Linked DNA regions of Homo sapiens. The protein of the gene in region 1 purifies or fractionates together with the protein of each later gene. This does not show direct contact. Each region holds a gene or a part of one and is shown in the gene's direction. Other genes may lie near its edges. The genes, in order: KCTD13, SRPX, BTBD9, GFPT2 and SMTN.

What was found.
Region 2: the proteins of KCTD13 (region 1) and SRPX purify together in Homo sapiens (affinity purification with mass spectrometry; one large-scale study listed by BioGRID and IntAct). This does not show direct contact.
Region 3: the proteins of KCTD13 (region 1) and BTBD9 purify together in Homo sapiens (affinity purification with mass spectrometry; one large-scale study listed by BioGRID and IntAct). This does not show direct contact.
Region 4: the proteins of KCTD13 (region 1) and GFPT2 purify together in Homo sapiens (affinity purification with mass spectrometry; one large-scale study listed by BioGRID and IntAct). This does not show direct contact.
Region 5: the proteins of KCTD13 (region 1) and SMTN purify together in Homo sapiens (co-immunoprecipitation; one large-scale study listed by IntAct). This does not show direct contact.

Annotation. Positions count from the first base shown.
Region 1 is NC_000016.10:29,908,633-29,912,929, reverse strand, and holds part of KCTD13 (BTB/POZ domain-containing adapter for CUL3-mediated RhoA degradation protein 1), read left to right. Parts: intron 1-880; coding exon 881-970; intron 971-1,062; coding exon 1,063-1,115; exon of another isoform or gene 1,116-1,269; intron 1,270-1,372; exon of another isoform or gene 1,373-1,756; coding exon 1,757-1,952; intron 1,953-4,297. UniProt on the Homo sapiens protein: Substrate-specific adapter of a BCR (BTB-CUL3-RBX1) E3 ubiquitin-protein ligase complex required for synaptic transmission.
Region 2 is NC_000023.11:38,217,756-38,222,713, reverse strand, and holds the start of SRPX (sushi repeat-containing protein SRPX isoform 1 precursor), read left to right. Parts: upstream 1-1,842; 5' UTR 1,843-1,921; coding exon 1,922-2,018; intron 2,019-4,958. UniProt on the Homo sapiens protein: May be involved in phagocytosis during disk shedding, cell adhesion to cells other than the pigment epithelium or signal transduction.
Region 3 is NC_000006.12:38,636,966-38,641,755, reverse strand, and holds the start of BTBD9 (BTB/POZ domain-containing protein 9), read left to right. Parts: upstream 1-1,826; 5' UTR 1,827-1,956; intron 1,957-4,790.
Region 4 is NC_000005.10:180,328,798-180,333,094, reverse strand, and holds part of GFPT2 (glutamine--fructose-6-phosphate aminotransferase [isomerizing] 2), read left to right. Parts: intron 1-1,541; coding exon 1,542-1,600; intron 1,601-2,260; coding exon 2,261-2,395; intron 2,396-4,297. UniProt on the Homo sapiens protein: Controls the flux of glucose into the hexosamine pathway. Most likely involved in regulating the availability of precursors for N- and O-linked glycosylation of proteins.
Region 5 is NC_000022.11:31,087,383-31,091,679, forward strand, and holds part of SMTN (smoothelin), read left to right. Parts: intron 1-582; coding exon 583-731; intron 732-1,071; exon of another isoform or gene 1,072-1,130; coding exon 1,131-1,224; intron 1,225-1,316; coding exon 1,317-1,395; intron 1,396-1,489; coding exon 1,490-1,587; intron 1,588-2,316; coding exon 2,317-2,637; intron 2,638-2,725; coding exon 2,726-2,798; intron 2,799-3,054; exon of another isoform or gene 3,055-3,198; intron 3,199-3,425; coding exon 3,426-3,497; intron 3,498-3,578; coding exon 3,579-4,100; intron 4,101-4,292; coding exon 4,293-4,297. UniProt on the Homo sapiens protein: Structural protein of the cytoskeleton.

The DNA of each region.
Region 1 (4,297 bases):
TTTCTTTCTCCAACGTCATCCCACCCAATGAAGTTCATTCACTCAACAAATATGTTCATTCATTCAACAAATACAGAGCATCAGCTGTATACTAGGTAGTTATTCCTAGGTGGGAAGAGACAGATCATAAACAAATACAAAAAGTTAGAAAAAGTCAGACACTAACTGCTGTGTAGAAAATGAACTGATAGGCCTGGTGCAGTGGCTCACGCCTGTAATCCCAGCACTTTGGGAGGCTGAGGCGGGCTGATCACCTGAGTTCGGGAGTTCATGACCAGCCTGACCAACATGGAGAAACCTCGTCTCTACTAAAAATACAAAATTAGCTGGGTGTGGTGGCACATGCCTGTAATCCCAGCTACTCAGGAGGCTGAGGCAGGAGAATTGCTTTAACCCGGGAGGTGGAGGTTGCAGTGAGCCGAGATGGCGCCATTGCACTCCAGCCTGGGCAACAAGCGAAACTCTGTCTCAAAAAAAGAAAAAGAAAACTGATAACACAAAAGGCAGGATGTAGAGGAGGCTGTTTTAGCCAGGGGGGCTGGGGAGGGCTGGCCCTGAGGAGGCACTGTGTGACCTGCGATCTGAATGGCATGACGGACACGCCACGCTGACAGCTGAGCAAAGAAGCATCCCGGGCAGGGGCACAGCCAGTGGCCGGGGCAGGCACAAGCTGGATGTGTGAAGCAGCAAGGTGTCCGTGGGACCAAGGCCCAGCAAGCAAAGGGAGAGTGGCAGAGAGGCTGGCGGAGCTTGGAGCCTGCAGAGCCCTGCGGACCACTGAGGAGTCTGGAGTTGTTCCCAACCAGCTTTTGAAGGCTTTTAAGTGGGGGAGTACGTGGCCTTTGGTTGTGCTGTTAACCACCTTCCGCTTCTTCCCCAGCAAAAAAGGGAGACGCTGTCCCCGCTGTGCCTCATCCCCATGGTGACATCTCCCCGGGAGGAGCAGCAGCTCCTGGCCAGCACCTCCAAGGTGAGGCCCCCAAGCCCTGCAGGGTGGAGGCTCACTGGGGGGGCCTCTCCCTGCAGCCTCACCCCTCTCGTCCATCCTCTCTCCCCCGCCAGCCCGTGGTGAAGCTCCTGCACAACCGCAGTAACAACAAGTACTCCTACACCAGGTGACCGCCGGGGTGCGGGGCACTGGGCGGGACCCTGGGATGCAGCACAGCCCTGCTTCTGCCCAAGGCGAGGGCCACGGCCACACGGGGGGCCTACAAGAACATCTGTGCCTGCTCGCAGATTCGGCTTCGCCTCTTACCCCTGACGCTCTAGGCAGGTCCTTTCTGCTTCTCAGCTTCAGCTCAGTCATCAGTAAATGGGTTTGGGTGAGGACAAAGTGATAGTGGCGAGCCTATCCCAAGTGCTCTCATTCTAGGAACTGGCAGAGTCCTCCCCCTTGAGGTCAGTACTGTTGTGAGCTCCATTTTACAGATGAGGAGGTCGGGACACCAAGAGGTGAAGTAACTTGCCTAGTGTCACCCAGTTAAAAAATGGGGACACCAGGACCCCCGGGGAGGTGGCCTGGCTCCCGGTCCCTCACTGGAGCTGCTGTGCTGTGCTGTGCTGGGATTTGCTCAGCGCATGTGGCTTCCCTTCTGAGACCCGTTTAGCCTGGCCCCAGGGGTGGAGGAGGCTCTCTGTTGAGCACCAAAGCCCTGGGCAGGAGCAGAGGACTGGGAATGCATCCAGGCCCGTCTTCTGGGGGTACAGAGGGAGGGGTGCCAACTGCGCTGAGGCCTCCTGGTCCCCTGGTCCCCAGCACTTCAGATGACAACCTACTTAAGAACATCGAGCTGTTCGACAAGCTGGCCCTGCGCTTCCACGGGCGGCTACTCTTCCTCAAGGATGTCCTGGGGGACGAGATCTGCTGCTGGTCTTTCTACGGGCAGGGCCGCAAAATCGCCGAGGTGTGCTGCACCTCCATTGTCTATGCTACGGAGAAGAAGCAGACCAAGGTCAGAGGGGCTCCAGAGCCTATGTTGGGGGCTGGGGGTGGCCAGGACCAGGACCCTGGACAAAAGCAGGTTGGCAGGGGAAGGAGCCCACCACCAGGAGGCAGGAGCCAGATCCTGGGGTCTGGGGTGCACAACAGTGGGCAAGCCACCCTATCCCTGTGGGTCTCTGTTTCTCTGTGAAATGGGGGTCACGGGTTAGAGCAGGGTGCTTAGCCTAGGCCTGTTGGATGGGTTTCAAGGCTGTTTGCAACTCCTGAAATGGGGGTGTATGCATTTTTCTGTATAGGGGGTCCATAGTTGCCATTAGAAACTCAGAAGGGGTGAGGCATAGTGGCTTACGCCTGTAACCCCAGGACTCTGGGAGGCCAAGGCAGGAGGATCACTTGAGCCCAGGAGTTCGAGACCAGCCTGGGCAACATCGTGGGACCTGATCTCTGTAAGAAGTCAAAAAATTTAGCCAGGTGTGGTGGCTTGGTGACATGATGGCATGCACCTGTAATCCCAGCTACTCAGGAAGCTAAGGCAGGAGGATTGCTTGAGCCCAGTAATTTATTTATTTATTATTATTATTATTATTATTTGAGATGGAGTCTCGTTGTGTCACCAGGCTGTAGTGCAGTGGCACAATCTCCGCTCACCGCAACCTCTACCTCCCAGGTTCAAGCGATTCTTCTGCCTCAGCCTCCCCAGTAGCTAGGACTACAGGCACGTGCCACCATGCCCAGCTAATTTTTGTATTTTTAGTAGAAACGGGGTTTCACCATGTTGGCCAGGATGGTCTCAATCTCTTGACCTCGTGATCCACCCACCTCAGCCTCCCAAAGTGCTGGGATTACAAGCGTGAGCCACTGCCCCCAGCCTATTTTTTTTTTTTTTTTTTTAGACAGAGTCTCACTCTGTTGCCCAAGCTGCAGTGCAATGGTGTGATCTCAGCTCACTTAACCTCTGCCTCCCAGATTCAAGTGATTCTCCTGCCTCAGCCTCCCAAGTAGCTGGCACTACAGGCACCCGCCTCCATGCCCGGCTAATTTTTGTATTTTTTAGTAGAGACTAAATGTAGTAGAGAAGTCTCTTTAGTAGAGACTTCGCCATGTTGGTCAGGCTGGTATTGAACCCCTGACCTCAAGTGATCTGCCCTCCTCGGCCTCCCAAAGTGCTTGGATTATAGGTGTGAGCCACCGGGCCCGCCCTAGCCCAGGAATTTGAGGCAGCAGGGAGCTATGATCATGCCACTGCACTCCATCCTAGGAGACAGAGTGAGCCCTAACTCTAATTAAAAAAAAAAAAAAGGGAAACTCAGAAAGGCCCATTGCCAAAAATAGATTCTTAAAACCTCAGAATCAGATGTCTCTTAGAACATCCTCTGAGTTTGTAGATCCTGAGTCATTAATGTGGCAATCATCAAGATATTCCCCAAGCCCCTGCTCTGTGCTAAGTACTGTACCGGGCTGGAAATCAAGGGGAATGAAGTGCTGAGCAAAATACAAGCCCTTCCTCATCTGGTCCCTTCCGAGCTTACTATGAGCCACATGCCTCAGGTACACCACAGTCATCACAAGTCTCTAAGCACTCAGTGCTATTTCTTACCTCTTACCTCTGCACACACTGTTGCCTCTTGGAATTCTTTCCTTCTATCTGCCTAATGAACTTGTACTTAATCTTAAGACTCAAGCTAAGCATCACTTTCTTTGGGTCACCTTCACTCATGAACTTTCAATCCAGCAACCCCAAAGTTGGTCACACTCCCTTCATAGCTAAAGACAGTGTTTTATCATGTGTGGTGGAGGGGAGGGGGTTTGCATCAGCAGCGAGGTGTTAGTTCCTTGAGGGCAGGGCCATGTCTTTTTCTTTCCTATCTCCCATTAGCTGGGCCCTTTTCACACAGTGGAAGCTAGGAAACATTTATTGAATGAATGAATGAATGAATCAGTGACCCAGCTTCCAAGAAACATCCTCTGATTGGGAAGATAGGAAGATAAACCAATAATTAGAGTGCATGGCTCACACCTGTAATCCCAATACTTTAGGAGGCTGAGGCAGGGGACCATTAAGGCCAGGAGTTTGAGGCCAGCCTGGGCAACACAGCAAGACCCCATCTCTACAAAAAATAAAAAAAAATTAACTGGACATAGTGGTACACCCAGGTACTCAGGAAGCTGAGGTGGGAGGATCACTTGAGCCCGGGAGGTTGAGGCTGCAGGGATACATGATCACACCACTGCACTCCAGCCTAGGCAACAGAGTGAGATCTTGTCTTAGAAACAAACAAACAACGATTAAAAAAAAAAAAAAAAGGCCGGGCATGGTGGCTCACACCTGTAATCCCAGCACTTTGGGAGGCTGAG
Region 2 (4,958 bases), on another chromosome or scaffold:
GCTGCCATAACTGGGGAAAGGGGGATTGCTAGTGGTATCTGTTGCATAGAGGCCATCGATGCATCTCTCAACGTGCAAGGCAGTCCCCCTCCCCAAGAAAGAATCATCTAGCCCCAAATATCAATAGTGCCCAAGTTGAGAAACTCCTGGTCTAGAATTTTTATCCTATACTAAAACTTATACCGTGGAGCTTAGCGGATTGGGGAGAGACAAAAATATGCATCTGGTCAAACTCCAGGTCACATTCCTAAAGATTCTGATTTTATTAGTGTGAGGTAGAGCCTGGATATGGTATTTTCATGAAGCTCCCCAGGTGACCCACATAAACAAGGTTGAGAATGACTCCCTGGAAAGTCTGGTCTGATGGAGGCCACAGAATAGACTGACCTCCCCCATTTCCTTGCGACTAGGGGGTTATTTAAGGGTTGTTGGTTCCCTGAAGAGGTAGCAGCAGTGGAGAAACCCACAGGAGATGGAGCGAAGTCCCCCCAAGTGCTAGAGAGGGTAAGATGGACGTTCAAGTCTGGGGCTTTTGTGAGAATTGGGAAATGGCACTCCTTCTGGATAAACAAATTCAGAACTTCTAGGTGAGTGCCCCCAGGGCTCTTAGCCTAGCTATCAGACCAGACTACTGTGGCAGAGAGAAAGATGCCCTTCTAGTGGATGTGGCCCCTGCCAAGACGCAAAGCTCCCTGAACCCAAAGGCATTTGGATTTTGGCTCCCACTTGCCCCTTCCTCTGGATGCCTTTGTACAGTGCCCAAACTGCACAACCTAATGCAGCAACTCCAACTAAAATTTGCCTTAGCTAAGATCTTTCTGAGACAGCAAAGGGGCAACGTATTGCCTTACTGATTTAACAAGAACTAAACAACCAAAACAACAAACAAACAAACAAAACTATGAGAGGCTTACTCAAATGCCTCAAAGAAACCAGATCCGTCCTGCGGGCAGCCTAGAAACCCTGTCCTGATGCCAGGATCCAGCGATGCCAAGCCACAGGGAAGAGGCTCCAGTCTGGTCGTGGTATCTTTGGGGTGGTTGAGAACAACCCAGGAAATGAGGAAATCTGGCTGCAGGAACCTACAGCTGGATCCCCATGGCTGTGGGTGAGACAGAGAACTTTCTGTGCCTTGTGCTCTCCCATCAGCTGATCCTGGAAGGAGAACCTCAAGCCCCATCCTAAACCGCAGCAGAGCAGGCACGCACCCGGTCCAGTCCTTGATTTATTCCTTTGCAAAAGAGAAACAAACTAACAAAAAATCTGTAGTATGGACTTTGACGTCGGCAGAACTACACACCTAAGTTCCAGTCCCTGCTCTGCCAGTAACGGGGGTGAATCTGGGCAAGTTTCTAAGCGTCGGTGTCTTATTGGAGAAAGTGGACATGGTAATAGCGAACTTGGGGCATGGTCGTGAGGATCAAAACAGAGAACATGGCCATAGTATCCGGCCGCAGTGGGCCACTCTGAATCCCCTCGGTTGCCCCTTCTGTTTCCGTGTGACTCACGCAGCTTTCTGCACAGATGGTATCCTTCTAGACGTCTGGGATGTTCGAGGCGGTTGTATTGAATACCGTGTGTGTATTCCGGGTGAGGGGGCGCGCAAATTGGGGCAAAGAAAGCTACTTCAGGATATTTCGCTCTGCTGGGGCTTGTCTCCAGCGCTCTCTGGCCAGAAAAAGCGCTGGCACAAAAGGAGGAGGTGGGTGGGTCAGAGCCCCGAACCGCGCAGTGTTCCAGGGGGGGCGGAGAAAGGAGGGCAGGCCCCAGGCAGGAAGGAGGGAGGGAAAGAGGCGAGAGGAGGAGTTTTCCAGCCCGGCCTTCGCCCGCCCGCTAGCACGCAGTCCCTTGGTCTCTTCGGTCTCCTGCCGCCCCCGGGAAGCGCGCTGCGCTGCCGAGGCGAGCTAAGCGCCCGCTCGCCATGGGGAGCCCCGCACATCGGCCCGCGCTGCTGCTGCTGCTGCCGCCTCTGCTGCTGCTGCTGCTGCTGCGCGTCCCGCCCAGCCGCAGCTTCCCAGGTAGGATCGGAGGCGTGGCTGCCTCCTCAGCTGGGCACCAAAGACCCCCGGAGTCGCCGTTGGGACCCTTCGCTCGGGATAGAGGGAGGTGCCGGGGGCGCCCTTTGTTTGCGCAGAACTCCTCTTTCGCAGCCCGAGGGTGGGGATGATGCGGATCGGGGCTGGTGTCTGGGCACGCGCCGGGAAGAACTGACCATCCCATCTCCAGGCGCGGGGCGCCCTCGCGGCGACGGGAGCCCTAGCACCTTCTGCGTCCGGGCTTCCAGAGTTCCAATCAAACCCTTTTCGGTGTAGGAGGCTCCACAGAGAAAGTTTGGCCGCAGACTAGTTTGCTACTTTCTCACCCCCAGAATTTTGCCTCTCACATGGTTGCCCACTGGAGGCTGGCAGCTTGTCCTGGAAGGAGCCTCTATGCCCTCCCACTACACGTCCCAGGCTACCCCCTTGGGGCCGCAGGACACGAGCCACGGTAAAGCGACTTTTGTGGAAGGCACGGGCGGGGCCTCCCCTGAATCTCTTAACCCCCCCTGCTGGGGATTCCGAGAAAGTCTGCGCCTCTGAGGAAGAATTGCCAGCTGAGAGTGGTGACATGTGGCATGCACTTGATTAGCCCCAGGGAAAGAGGGCTACTCGCGCAAGGATCTGCTGGGCAGAGGGTGCGGCTTATTCCTGGAGGGCGTGGTCTCCGGCATCTAAGGGGGCCCTGGTGTTTCTTGGGGGCTCTCATGGTGTGAGCAAAATTCTCTTTGGAGATGCACTTTAAAAAGCTCCAGCTAACTTCCTCACCCTGGAGTCTTAGGTTAGCGAAGAGCTTCAGGGGAGTAGGGCAATGTGCCATGCACTCCTGTTGCCTCGGAATGGAGAGGAAATCCATGGATGCGTTTTAATTTAGTGTTAATGGGAAAGTGGGTGACGTCGGCTATAGGGCGTGCAAATATTTGGCTCTGCGTTCAACACCGTGGGCAGCTTAAATCTAGGGTATGAGAAATGAACCTACTGAGTTCTGGTAGAAGGATAGAGGATGCCCATCTTTCTAGCAGTGTGCTTGGGAGATGTAGGGATGGCTGCGGGAAATTCTCTGCACGCACCTAAATAAATGAATGAATAGAACAAATTTGTAAATTAATAAACAGGAACATTTGTGTTTTGAGCTGACTCTTAAGTTTTAAGCTGCTTTGTAGGAACTGATTCAGGGTAAAGTGGAAAGGAAATTTTATCCTTACTGCCAGGCAACTGTTATTCCCATGGTGTGTTAATACCTCCTCTCCCACCCCCTTTAGCAGGAATCAGGTTAAAATGAACCTGTAGGGGAAGAGGAAGTCATTAAGCGTCCCAGAAGCAGCTTTCTGGGAGCGGGCAAATAAGGTGAGAAGCTAGAGGTAGCTTTTCCGCACTGAGTTGGGAGGTGCCTGTGAGCTGCCTGGGAACCTCAACTTTTAGTTGAGCCTTTCTCAAGCTGGGGACCCCTTCTCCTTTTCCATCCGACCTCCCTCCGTTCTCCTCCCCTGCCCTCCCCTCTCCTTTCTCTCATCTTCCACCTTTATATAGTACAGCTTGCTACCAGGGCCCAGCCACAGAATCATGAGTTCGCCAGTTTGGGCATTCACTACCACCTGTCTTTTGGGACCTATCCCTGGCTTTCCTGGCTCCCTCTGCCAGCCTGCAAGCTGCTCCCAACTTTTAGCCACCATGTTCCTGCTTGCCACCACCTCCACTGACTCCTAACCTGCCCTCCGGCTCTGCTCAGACCACAAATGAGCTGAAGCTGATTGGAGCTGCTTGATAAACACTCCTCTTGAGCCTCCTTTTGGCATGGCTCAATGGGGTCTCTTGGGAAGTGTGCTCCGCTGAGGTTGTGAGATCCAGAGGAGGGGATTTCAGTCCAAGCCAGAGGCTTTGGAAGGCTGGGGAGGGGAAAATCTCTAGGCCCTTGGGTCTGAAAGCAAATCACATAGGCTGAGTTCACTCTAAGTGCTGGGTGACAAATTTTAAAGATCATTTCAGAGACACTCTCTTAGCAAGTGGACATCATATCTTCAGTAAGAGAGAAAGTGAAGGACTTGAATCTGGAACTTCTGAAAGAAGATGGAGATCTAGGGCTCCATCAGCAAGTCGATTATGTAACTATCTGCACGTGAATAGCACATCTGTCAGAGTGAGAGTAAATCATTCTCATTCCCACTCCTAGAAGGTCTCTGGAGTTCTTCCATCTTAGAATTTAATGCAGCTTTTCTGGCTCTCTGATCTATTTTTTGCAGCCTAGCAAAGATGCAGTGTCTATAAAAACCTACATGAAGTGTATGGAAAATTTGTAGAAAAGTTGTTTGTGTTTGACTGTGTTTGTATGCTTATAACAGATGAGAATTTAGATTCTGTTCTTAAAATAATTCTTAGAGCTGTATTTGCATGTGAGATAGTGGTGGTTCACTCTGCCTCCTTCTGCAAACAAGGCTGAAGATGGAGAATGAGTACCATGGCCTCTAAGAAAGGCTTCGTGAATCTTACATCTGGAGAAAACTGGTAAAGTAGCGTGGTTTTACTAGTCAGGAAAACCAAGTGAGGTTTGCTAAAAGCCAAACCAGACTACATCAGCTGAAGCAGTCTTTTGAAATACCACATTTGGAGATAAGTACTAGGAATGGAGCACCTAGCTCAGGTTATATAATTAAGGTGTCACCGGGAACAGGCTAGGAATTCCTATTTAGATTTAAAACATGTAATCAGCTGACAAAAGTACTCTGCAATGAAAAGGAAATATGCTGGGGAGAGCAGGTCATTTTCCTCTGGCATTTTCTTCATTGATAACACTTTCAGTACAGTACAATGTTGTTTGTTAGTTACTACTCATTTCGCAGATTTGGGAGCTGAATGAGACACCAGAAACCATTGTTAAAGCAGCGTCTTCACATCTTCCCACCTCATCAGTCCTCGTACCATAAC
Region 3 (4,790 bases), on another chromosome or scaffold:
GATCATTATTCTGTGTAACACAGCTGACAAAGCTGGTATTAAATATTATCTGTGGACAGACAGCTTCCTAATGCCAAACTCTGGAATTAAATACATATACTCTCTTTGTAGCCCTGGACTAGGCACCCTTGTCCCTACCCACAGGCCCTGCTCCAGAAGAAACGGAAAAGAACACCAGGACAGTTCCCTGAAGATAGTTATCTTTTAAGAGAAAAAGAATGGGATAGATGCCACATGTCCAGTTTCTCCCATTTAAGTTCACCAATCAGGAAGTCACTCCTCTAGGCAAGAGTGAGTTGCAGACAGGTATAAGAGAAACCAGGAGAGTATTACACTAATGGATATCATTCCATATGGAAGAAAGACATTGTGAATGGAGAGTAAATGTTTCCCTAACAAACATATCCATATTTGAACTCATCATCATACTCCACATATCTGGTCATCCTCCTAAGAAATGTCACCATCACTATCTATAATAGTAACTTAGACACTTGTGGATAATCAAGACTCATGTAGCTTGCCATCTTGCTAAATGTTACCACTGTCTACCTCAGCACTCATGCTAGAAACCTGGCCTACTCATTTATCCGCACTCAGTGCTGTGAATTCTACCACCTTAATGGCGCTAACATCTATCCCCTCCTCTATTCCCACTGCCAATGCCTTGTTTAATGTTCTTATCACTTGTCTGGAGTACTGCAATGGCCTAAAAATGGGTCTCCCTGCCCCAAGCCTTGCTTTTCCTGACCATTTTCACTTTCTACTTTTACTCATGAAGCTTCCTTTGCCCGGAATTAAGTCCTTCCCAATTTGTCTCCTCCAACAACTGCAAGGGCGGTCCCCTAGCTTGCTCCAGCGTCGGGGATAACTGACTTTCCTACACCAGCTACAGTCAGACCTGCACCCGGATTTCTAGGACTCTTATCTATGTAGATAGATAAATACATTTTTTTGAGACAGTGTCTTGCTCTCACTGCAGAGGCTGGAGTGCAGCGGCGCGATCACGGTTCACTGCAATCTTGAACTCCCCAGGTTCAAGCGATCCTCCCACCTCAGCCCCCCGAGCATTTGTGACTACAGGCGCGCGCCAACATGCCCATTTAGTTTTTGTCTTTTTTGTAGAGACGGGGTTTCACTATGTTACCCAGGCTGGTGTCGAACTCCTGAGCTCAAGCGATCCGCCCACCTCGGCCTCCCAAAGTGCTGGGATTACAGGCTTGAGCCACCAAGTCAAATGGGCTTTATACTTACAAAGTACCTTTGCATACCTTATTTCATTTTCACCTCACAATTCTCCAGCGTAGGCTGGACCGGTATTATTATGCCCATTTACTGAGAGAGGAAACTGAGAGTCAAGGCTGGGCCAGTCACACCCTGCTGCGAAATTAACGAGCATCACTTAGCAGCCTCGACATTAACCGCGCTCGCGCTCTCATCCCTTTCTGGTCCTACTCCTTGGAGAACCTTCCTGCACCTCCAAGAACTTGCCGATCGGGTCTGCGGCGGTCTGGACGAGGTCACTCCACAGGCGCCCAGGACCTTCTCATCCGTAGTGACGTGCGCCGGTGACGCCATACAGTGACGTGTGGTGACTCGACTTACCCGGAGCCAGGTGCCGGCAGGGCAGCCACACCCTGGGGCCCCCTGTTCTGGAGGGGCAGAGGGTCGGGCCGATGCGAAAAAGCCGCGGAAGCTGCCTTAGGCGACTTTCTGGGCCTGCATCGCCGGACCCAGCAGCCCGCTGTCGATCGGTTGCTAAGTGACGCCAGCGCGCAGTGGCGCGTGCGCGGCCACGGCGGAGTGCGTGAAAGCGGACGCGCGCCGCAGCAGCCGGGGCGGCGGCGAGGACGGCGGCCACGGAAGCGGCCAAGGGGGCGGTGGCGCAGAGAGGGGTGCGGAGCGGGCGGAAGAGGCGTCTGTGTCGCAGCTTGGTCTCAGAGGAGCATCGCTGGGGTGAGTAGCCGGGTCCTTGCAGGGGAGGTGGGGCCTGGCCGCACCTGCGGCGCGGGGACGCGCGCCCCCGCCGTATCCGCGCGCACCGCCCCCCGCCCCTCCGCCGCTTTTTCCGGGGGCGGGGGAGGAGCTGGGACGGGGCCTGACGAGGGTCATTTCTTGGGCCCGGGTGCTCTGGGAGAGCGGTAGCCGTCCCGTTCGCAGTCCACGAAGGTGTAGTGGGAAGTAGACGTTTCGGGGATTCGGGGTGGCTCTACCAGCCTCCCAAAGAGAGGAGTTCGAATCAGGGGCAGCCCAGGTTCCCTAGCAGTCTCGTATCCTGTCTGAGACGACGTTGCCTGGGACTGAGGAGGCGAAACCCGGGACCCCGGGGTGGGGGTTTGGAAAGTTTGGGACTGCTGGGGCCCTCATCTCCCCTGCCCTGGCCAGCCTCTGAGTAGGAGCTGGTTGTTATGGAGAGAGTTGTGAATCAGTGCCTGCGTGCGGCATCAGACACACCCACGACCTTGGGAGGGCGACCTGTCAGTATAGATCCGGGGCAGCCAACCTGTTGCCTAGAGTTTCTAACTTCACATGTATGTGCATGTGTTTCCTTGGCGTTTTAGTACATTGTTGTTACAGATTTTGAGACCAAGGTGCTGATAGGCATCCTCATTTCTTACTTCCTCATAGACTTAGTTATCTTGCTATATTTCCCAGAACCGTGTTGTGCTTTTGTCATTAGTAGATCCAAGGAAGTATGGAAGCATGTTTTGTTTGTTTTTCCTAAAGGCAGTACAGGCTGCTATTTTCTGGGCAGAAAATACGGATTCTGTTCACTGTGTGGGCGGAAAGTGTTGATGATGGGAGAACCCAGCATGTAAAGGTGTAGCTCATCCTCAGCCCTGTGCTGTCTTCTCAGTGCTCTGGACTCTATCATGGGTAGATGTATAGGGGTTGTGGTTACCATACTTGGGAGCGAGGAATATTGGAGACAGGGAAGAAGCCAGTCTTTTCTTTCTGTTGATTAAGGCAATTTGTAGAACCAGTGAAAAGATAGGCTGTACTGAAATCTAATGTTTTGTGTAAGAGGATAGAGGAAAATAAGTTCAAGGTTCTCATTTAGGTCTAAAATTCTATGATTCTGTTTCATAACTGAGAATCTGTAAAGTATGTTACCTCTTGGAACCAGTAATAACCTTGCTTTGTAACACTTATTAGATTACTCGGAATTCAAAGTGTCTTCCTCCCTCCACTGTAATAGCTTTTAGGACAGGAGTCATCTGTGTTTTCCTCCTTGCCCTATGTCTAACACATAGGAAAAATGTGCTTGCCACAGAGTAGGCATGCAATGGATATTTGTTATATAGCACACTATGCTCAAGTGGTGTATCTATGTATAGAAAGCATTGAGTTCAGTCCATCAAGTACTTAATACATGTGCCTCCCTCTGCCCAGTATCATGATAGGTGTGGGAGGAGGATTATGGAGTGAAAAATGACATAGAAGACCTGTCTTTTTTTTCCCTTTGAGAGCAGTAGTCTAGCTAGGAGATGTATAAAATAATTATAAAACCAAGTTAAGTAGCAGGTAACCAGTGCTGTTTGAGGACTATAAATGTGGTAGAAAATCAGAAAAGATAGGATGTGTAGGCTGAGTTAGGGAACTCTTTGAAAGAGGCAAGATTTGACTTGGTCTCTGAAAGAAGTTAAAATTTGTTAGGAAATAAACCAGGAGCTGAGAAAATAATAATGTGAATTTGGTTGTTGGAGGATATACCAAGACGACTTTTATGTCTGGTAACTGGAGCGGAACGTCTCTTATAGGGGAATACTGGAGAGAGATGGCTTAGCAGGTTGGGAAGGCAAAGTGTTAAGGATTAAGGCGGGCTTATCAGCATCCCACTGTTAACAAGATACAGCCTTCTTGTAAGGTGGGATAGAGGTTGTATTAATCAGAGTACAGTCTTTGACAAGAATAAGTGTTATCCTTACTTGAAAGTAAAGGATATTACGCTTGAACCAATATCAGGTTGTTAATATACTTTTGATTTCAATTACTAATTGGAATCGATGCCTCACTAATGTGCATGTATTTTAGGTAGTCAGTGGTGCATGTCTCATTATCTAAAATCTACCTGATGTACTTGGGCCATTGTATTGGAAATTTACTGAAATGATGTACCAATAGTCATCCAGTCACACTCAGTGACATAGTTTTGCTTGGGATTATCTCTCTGAGGTTTGTCTTTACTGCTGATCCTGTAAAATATACAAATGTTAGTTGGGAAAGGAGTCTTTCTGATGAACGATGCTTAAAAATACTGACCAAAGAGATTTCAGAATAATTAAAGACCCTGCTGCTGAATATTGAACCCTTGGTCTTTATTTATAACATCTTCTGTTATGTGAAAATTCTTTTGAGTGGTATGTAAACCTGAAGTTGAATTGCTAACCAAGATGTGTAAAGTTACAACTGCAAATGTTGCATTATTTAACAACTCAGCAGATACTTACTGGGTGCTGGCTATGGCGAGACACTTCGTTGGGTGCTGGGAAGACAAAGAAGTTAAGACACAGTATATGCTCAGCATACTAAGTGTTCATCAGAAGAGATAAACCACTAACCATTATGTGCTGTGACAAATTAATCACTTTTGGAATGAATAATGTGCTGGGGGAGTAGAGTGCTTTGGCTGGAGAAAAAACTGATAGGGAACATGTTGAGAAGAAGGGGATGGAGCTTAGCTCTGAGGGTTAAATAAAATTTCGCCACATGTAGAGGTGGAAGAGAGCATTCCAGGGGCCAGCATAAGCAAAGTTGCTGAATATTAAAATTAAATAGCGCTTTTGGAA
Region 4 (4,297 bases), on another chromosome or scaffold:
AATACATAAAAAATAAAGCTGAGCTGTGGTCAGCACATCTGTTGAAACTGGGCTTTTCTTATTTAAGCCCTCCCATTTTTGGGTGTGACCTCACAAAAACAAACACTACAATTTTTTTAAATAGAGGAAATCATGGTGAGAATAAAGAAAAAGAATAATGGAAAAGATTTCAAAAGATGCTGTGGGAGAAATCTTTCCCGAACTGAAGGAAAACTTGAGTTGGATATCCAAAGAAGGGATCAAAAATAGTCAATAGACCAGGCACAGTGGCTCAAGCCTATAATCCCAGCACTTTGGGAGGCCAAGGTGGGTGGATCGCCTGAGGTCAGGAGTTCGAGACCAGCCTGGCTAACATGGTGAAACCCTGTCTCTACTAAAAAAATACAAAAATTAGCCGGGTGTGGTGGCGAGCACCTGCAATTCCAGCTACTTGGGAGGCTGAGGCAGGAGAATCGCTTGAACCCGGGAGGCAGCAGTCGTGGTGAGCCAAGGTCACGCCACTGCACTCCAGCCTGGGCAACAGAGTGAGATTCTGTCTCAAAATAATAATGGTAATAATAAAAACAAATAAGACTTCACAGTGATGCTTTGAAAAAAATAGTCAATATTTATGAAGCGTATCCCACATCTAGACACCTCCTGGTGGAATTATTGAACCTCAAGGGTAATAGGGAATCTTTCTGTCCTCTAGGGGGAGAGGGAAACGGAGCTACTTGCCCAGAAAAATTCTCAGGCTGGCCTTGGATCTTTCCCTCAAGGCACTCATATGCGGGCTATTCATTGAGAAAATGCAGTGGGGTGGAGGCAGACATCCCTCACCGCATCCCCCGCATCCCCCTGCTCCCCCCGCCCCCCCGCCACCTCCCCGCCAGGATCAGCGGGGTGCTACCTGTGCAGGAAGCCGCCCGCGTGAGCTGGGTTGTGCGGCAGGAACTGGGGAGGTGGGAAAAGCTGCAGCTGGCAGATCCTGCTGTGCAGGAATGTGGCTGAGCCTGGGGATGCCAGAACTTCTGGGATTTTTCCCCCAAGGAAACCAGGATTTTAAAGTGAACACTCAGAATTTTAAAAACTCAAATATTTTTACAACACAGTGTGGGTCAAACACAGCACGGTGCTGGACTGTTCTTTGCGACCTCTTTGTGCCTAAAGCCAGTTGAGAGTGCCTGGAATCACTTCTGGAACGAAGGGCTCATCATCCCCGTGGGACATGAACCCCAAAGCCTGTTTGATACTATAATAGCGCACAGGGGAGAGCTCTCTGCACGGTCAGGCTGGTGGCTGCTGGTCACTGAAAGAGGGATGTGTATTTCCTCCGGATCCCATTGTAGTAGCCGCTGCCCTAGACATCCCTGGTGCTAATCCCTGGTTCCACTGTAGTTGCTGCCGTAAACATCTGTGCTAATCACTGTAAACAAAGTGTGCTTAACAGAAGTCTTGAGGCCTGGAGTTTGCAGAGAGTTCTCAAGCCTTGAAATCATCTCTCTTCACATCTGACATGAACCTCCTTCTCAATAGCATTTCTCTCTTAACTTTTCTTTCAGAATTTGTTGTCATCCACAATGGGATCATCACAAATTACAAAGATCTGAGGAAATTTCTGGTAAGATGCTTCCCCTAGGTGATGTCTCAGTCCGGTGGGATTGGTCTCCCCAGAAACTTTCCAGCCAGCTCATTTCCTTGCGGAAACCAGTGTGGGAACTGAGTGAGACCCACACTCAGCCACGTCACCGTGTTGAGAAGAAACCTCTGCCTTGGCTGAGCCAGGCCCTGCAGATCTCGTTTGAGGAGATAACAGGGCATTAGTGTTTATCTCAAGGGCCACTGCAGATTCCCAGAATCAAAATAACAGGAGCTTCGTTTTATTAAACTGTCTGCATTATATAACACAGCGACTCGTATACCGGCGGAGTTGGGACGGAAAGTCAGACAGTGACTGTCTGAAGTTTGAAAGGCTCTGTGGTGTTAGTTGGGATGTGGGTGGGTTTGACTCAACGTATTTTATCATTTTGACTGCTGTTATTTTGCAATGTCCAGATTAGTGGCAAGGGTGAGCTTCTGAGGTGGGATGATCTCAGGGCCTCCGGGAGTGACTCAGAGGTATTTGGCTGTGATGCTGGCAAACATTTTTCCCCCCTTCCCGGTTTTCCCTGTTCTTGACTTAAGTCACTCCAAGGGCAGATCACCAGGGAGGAGAGGGAGTTGGCCAGGCAGGCATTGTGCAATGACCAATCTCTCACACTGTGCCGACTGCATATTCCAGGAAAGCAAAGGCTACGAGTTTGAGTCAGAAACAGATACAGAGACCATCGCCAAGCTGATTAAATATGTGTTCGACAACAGAGAAACTGAGGACATTACGTTTTCAACGTTGGTCGAGAGAGTCATTCAGCAGTTGGTGAGTTACAAATCCCATCTGTCTAACTCATTCCTTCATTCTTTCATTAAAAACATTTTTTTCAAGCAGCAAGTGCCAAGGAATCCTTCATTTTTTATAAGCCCTTGTTAGACAAACTTGCACAGAGTCCTGGGGATAAAAGACAGCCCATCTGCAGAGCCTGGCCTTAAGATGTTACACTCTTGTAGAACTGGAAGACGTTCTGTGGTTTGGGTAGTCAACATCAAATAGAAAGTGCCCTGCTTCATCGTGACACTTCTGAAATTGTGACTGGCATTAGAGTCCGTGGCTTTTTATGATGCACACGTGAGCTTGGTGGTGGTGTGCAGAGAGAGTTGTGGTACCAAGCGAGGATGTGTTTCTAGGTTTTTCTTTTTTGAGACAGAGTCTCACTCTGTTGCACAGGCTGGAGTGCAGTGGTGTGATCTTGGCTCACTGCAACCTCCACCTCCCAGGTTCAGGCAGTCCTCCTGCCTCAGCCTCCTGAGTTAGCTGAGACTACAGGCACGCACCACCACACCTGGCTAATTTTTGTACTTTTAGTAGAGACAGGGTTTCACTATGTTGACCAGGCTGGTCTCGAACTCCTGACTTTAAGTGATCCACCTGCCTTGGCCTCCCAAAATGCTGGGATTTACAGGCGTGAGCCACTGTGCCTGGCCTGTTTTTGTGATAGGTGATATCACAGCATGTCTGTATGTGGAACGGAATGGCCCAAAAGAGGGAGAGAGGGAGAGAGATTGGGGACATCCCAGAGGACAGGGCCCAGGGAGAAGAAGTCCCTGAGAAGGGAGCACACACTGGGCGTATTGTCCAAGGGGAGGCCCCTACACTGAGGAGGAGGTGGAGCAGACACAGGCCCATGCAGGGTGCGGGAGGACGAGAGGGGTCCGGGCCTCTCAGAGCCCATCCTGTCAGACAGCAGTGCCACCCAGTAGCTCCCCCAGGGCTGTGGCAGCCTGGACACTGGCCCAGAGTCCAGAACATCTGGCAGGCACCATCCTGTAGTGTAAAATACATCATTCTTGAGCAGGTGTTTTCAGAGTCTGATTTAAAAAGTAAGTCTACTGTTGAAGCCTTTTTGTCCTCTAACTCCCGTTTTTGGAGGTCCATCATTTAGAGGACGTGTTTATAAAAAACAGCCTATCCCACATTTAATGTGCTGGATAAGGTACAGTGAGCCAATTAGGTATTACAGCATGCTGTTTCTTCTTTTCCATTTTTATTTTGAAATTTCAGAAATACCTCTCTCATAATGACACTTTTAAACTTAAGACTTTTCCTACCTGGGACAGTACCGGGCTCTTTTTGGCAGAGAACGTGCAGTGTTTTTCCATTCAGTCCTATTTTATTGTTGACAAAAGCACCAGGGTCTGCCTGAAGCCCCCTGGTTTGGGGCAGTTTGAAAGCCCCAATGAGGCCTGGGGACGGTGACTCAGGTTCCTGGCCCTGTAGCTGAGTTGGCAACCTGGACCCGACACGCTGACCACCCGGGGCCTGGGGCTGCCCGTGGCTTCCACACTTGGAGGATTTCTTGTGGAAATTCAGATTTGCAGCTGGTTATATATAACTGAGCTCTGCTAGGGTTGCGGTAAGTTAGTACAGGATGGTCAGGACGTGGGGGAAGAATTTACACCAAGAATTTAAGTCAAAAAACCATCTGGCCTCTTGTGTTAGGAGAGCTGGATTCTAGTTCTGGCTTTGCACAAACCAACCAGCTGAGGCCCAGAGGGCAGGTGGCAGTCGTATCCATGGAAAGGATAATAGCAGTAACGGTCATGACAACCTGTGCTTCTCTTGGGTCTCCGGATGCCAGGCTCAGTGCATTAGCTTATCATCGTCACGGAAGCCCCGCCAGGTGGCGCTGTTCTCACTTCCTTCACCGATGAGGAGAACGAGGCG
Region 5 (4,297 bases), on another chromosome or scaffold:
CCATGGTGGCTAGGTCCAGGCCAGTGCAGTGGGGACAATAGCCCTCAGCCAGGCAGGACTCCTGAGCACCTGTCCTCAGTTTCCCCATCTGTGGATGAAGCAGTCAACCCCCAGCTGGGCTGTGGTGTTTGGTGACTAGACCAGGGAGCCTCCCTTGCTCAGAGGGTGGACTTCATCTGTCACCTTTCCCTCTAGGGACCCTGTTAGTGACCCACAGGGTGGCCTCCCTCCTCCTCCTACAATAGCTCCCTGACTTTTGGGGATCTGGGCTCTGAGAGGCAGGAATCGAGTTGTAGAAAGGAGTGCCTGGCTTGGCACCTGGCACAAGTGGGCAGTTTCTGGCTGTCCACTCACAGTTGTGTGCTCTGTGAACCACAATGCAAAGTGGACTACCCAAGATCCCTGAAACAGTGGGCTGGGTCTACCCCCGGGACCCTGCGTGGGCAGGCAGGCACGTGAAGAGCTTGGGACACAGGGAGTGGACACAGGCCACACATTGTGCCCTAGGCAGAGCCGTGGGCAGCTGGTGCCAGCCCTCCGCCCCTGGCAGCCAAAATGACCTGCCTCTCGCACCCACTGCAGCTGGAGGTCACAGCAGATCTGGCAGAGCGGCGGCGCATCCGCTCAGCCATCCGGGAACTGCAGCGGCAGGAGCTGGAGCGCGAGGAGGAGGCCCTGGCATCCAAGCGTTTCCGTGCCGAGCGGCAGGACAACAAGGAGAACTGGCTGCAGTGAGTAGCGGGGGGTGGAACATGCGGGTGAGAAGGTGAGTGTGAGCCCTGGCTCAGCTCATGTGTGCAGGCAGGCGTGAGCACAAGTGTATCTGTGGATTGCATGTGCTAATGGCAGTACGTCCACACACGCTTCTGGAAAAACAGAGATGTTTGTGGGCATGGAGCATGTACTGATTGTGGCGTCGCGGCCGTGCTGATGTAGCCAGCACGTCTGAGTGTGTGGTATTAGTGCCCACGTCCATGGGCATATGTGTATCAGTGTGCAGTTAGAGGGTGTGCACAGCCACATGCCCTTCTGCCAAGGTTCTGGGTACTCTGTTCTGGCTCCTACCCTTAGCCCACATCCTCCACGACCTGGCCATGGCAGTGGTGGTTACAGTCATGATGTCTCTGCAGCTCTCAGCAGCGGGAAGCTGAGCAGCGGGCTGCCCTGGCACGGCTGGCAGGGCAGCTGGAGTCCATGAACGATGTGGAGGAATTGACTGCACTGGTGAGGCCCAGGCTGGGGCAGGGGATGGGGGCAGGGCAGGTGAAGACCTGGACTCCACAGCCCAACACCCGCGACCTGTCTCTTACCCACAGTTGCGAAGCGCTGGTGAGTATGAGGAGCGCAAGCTGATCCGAGCTGCCATCCGCCGTGTACGGGCTCAGGAGATTGAGGGTATGTGGCCTGTCCCGGCCCCACCCCTGCCCTGCTGTCTGCTGTCCACAGCACCTCCCTGTCACTCACCTGCCACTTGCTCCTTCCCTTCCAGCTGCCACCTTGGCTGGGAGGTTGTACAGCGGGCGTCCCAACAGTGGCTCAAGAGAGGACAGCAAGGGGCTAGCGGCACACAGGCTGGAACAGTGTGAGGTAAGGAGGGTGGGAGAGTGGCCCAGTGTCCTGTGCCCATGGATACCGGTAGCACAGAGTGCCTGAGTGTCTTTGCTAGGCTGGTATTTCACTGTAAGGGGCCCACCCCTGCCATCCAGCCTCTATTTAGCAGTCAGAGGGATCTCCCAGAAATGCAAATCCGGCCCTGGCACCTCCCCTGCTTCAACCCGTCCCAGGGCTGCCCCTCACCCTCCACACAGCCCACATCTTTACCTTGGCTTATGGGGCCTGCATGTCAGACCCCAGCTGGCTCACAGTTCACTCTATTTTCCAGAGTGTGGGTGAGAGGTCAGGCCATGCAGGTTCCCCAAGTGGCCAGCAGAGGCCGCTGGGTCCACGGTCCTGGCAGGACCCCACTCCCACTCCAGATGAACCAGGCTGAGGCCAGGAGTCAGGAACCTCCACTCCAGGGATCTATTAAGGCTCCCGTCCCCAATAGGTCTCCTGCCATACCCACCCACTGACATCAGGACCTGGTCCTCTCTGAACCCCTTTGGCTAGGTAGTGCCAAGAGATTGGGAAGTGGGGATCAGAGACTGCCCTTAGCATGCCAGTGCCAGTGCTTGCGCAGGTGTGCCTACAGGAAGCCATGCCCCACCACTCTGCTTTGCATGCCCTGCCCTGGGCACTTGCCAGCCTGGCCCTCAGTGGTGGGGGTGGCGTTCAAAGCCTAGGGAGCCTTGGTTGCATCCTGTGGGTCCCTTACAGGTGCCAGAGCGAGAGGAACAGGAACAGCAGGCAGAGGTTTCAAAGCCAACCCCCACCCCTGAAGGCACCAGCCAGGATGTGACCACAGTGACACTCCTGCTGCGAGCCCCACCTGGGAGCACATCCAGCTCACCTGCCTCACCCAGCAGTTCACCCACCCCTGCCTCTCCTGAGCCTCCATTGGAGCCTGCCGAGGCCCAGTGCCTTACAGCTGAGGTTCCAGGCAGCCCAGAGCCACCCCCCAGCCCACCCAAGACCACCAGCCCTGAGCCTCAGGAGTCTCCAACGCTCCCCAGCACTGAGGGCCAGGTGGTCAACAAGGTGAGTCTGGATGAGGGGCAGGGATGCCAGGCAAGTGAGCAGGTCTGGGAGTCAGGCCTTGCTCAGGCCCTGTTCTTCTCCCTTGCAGCTTCTGTCTGGCCCCAAAGAGACCCCTGCTGCCCAGAGCCCCACCAGAGGCCCCTCTGACACCAAGAGAGCAGGTGAGGGTCCCAGCAGGGGTAGTCACAGGCATCTTTCTTCCCCTCCCCCTGCCTCCCTTTCCCTGCCTAGAAAATGGGCTCTTGTGCCTGGCAGCTCTAGCTTCCTCAGGTCCATGCAGTCCCTGATACTGCACCCCACCCCTGAAGTGTCCCCGCCCCCAGCTAGGCCAGCCTCCCCCTCCACCCCCATGGCTAGAGGCCTCCCCTGCAGCCTTGAAAGGCAACGGGCCTCAGGCACATTCTTCTCCCCAATAAGGGAGTCCACCCATCTCCCAGCTGGAGCTGTGGGCAGCACTGGCCAGGAGGGCTGTCCCCCCTCCCCATCTGCAGAAAGGATCTGGGCACCCTTCCTCCAGCCTAAGCCTCGCCTGGCCCCCAGGAGTGTCCAAGTCATCCTAGGGTCAGTGTGGCAGGAGAAGGAGGTGCCTGTAGGAGAGATGCAGCCGAGTGGGGATGCCGGAGTGTGGGAGATCCAGGAGGGGATGGAGAGGTGGGGTGGGGGTTGAGTACAGGAAAGGGTGGGAAGCTAGGGAGGTGTAGAGGAGAGGATTATGAAAGGTGGACACCCACTATCCCCTGTCTTTTCTCTTTCCCCACATGGCCATCACCCCCTCCCCAACCTGCCAGACGTGGCTGGACCCCGACCCTGCCAACGCTCCCTGTCGGTGCTCAGCCCCCGCCAACCAGCCCAGAACCGAGGTACTACCTATTCTCACCCTGCCTAGGATCTGTGCAGACCCTGTCCCACCCAGTTGCTGACAGCCCTCCTGTTCCTTCTAGAGTCCACCCCCCTTGCCAGCGGACCTTCCTCATTCCAGCGGGCTGGCTCTGTGCGGGATCGTGTCCACAAGTTCACATCTGATTCTCCTATGGCTGCTAGGCTCCAGGATGGCACACCCCAGGCTGCCCTAAGTCCCCTGACCCCCGCAAGGCTCCTGGGCCCCTCCCTCACCAGCACCACCCCTGCCTCCTCCTCCAGCGGCTCCTCCTCTCGGGGCCCCAGTGATACCTCCTCCCGGTTCAGCAAGGAGCAACGAGGAGTAGCCCAGCCCCTGGCCCAGCTTCGAAGCTGCCCCCAGGAGGAGGGCCCCAGGGGGCGGGGCTTGGCTGCTAGGCCCCTTGAAAACAGAGCAGGGGGGCCTGTGGCACGTTCAGAGGAGCCTGGTGCCCCGCTGCCCGTGGCCGTCGGCACTGCCGAGCCAGGGGGCAGTATGAAGACCACATTCACCATCGAGATCAAGGACGGCCGTGGCCAGGCCTCCACAGGCCGGGTGCTGCTGCCCACAGGCAACCAGAGGGCAGGTAGGCGCCCCCCACTGCCTCCCCAATGGGGATGAGTGCCTGCAACCGCACTTCTGCATGCAGGACAGGTGCTGCGGCCAGGACTCAGGGTGTCTCCAAAGGGTGTGCTGGGAGCGAGGGCATTATCAACCTTGTCTGGCACTGCCCTCACTCCACCTGATCCTCCTGACAGCCACCTTTCTCCCCACTCAGAACTG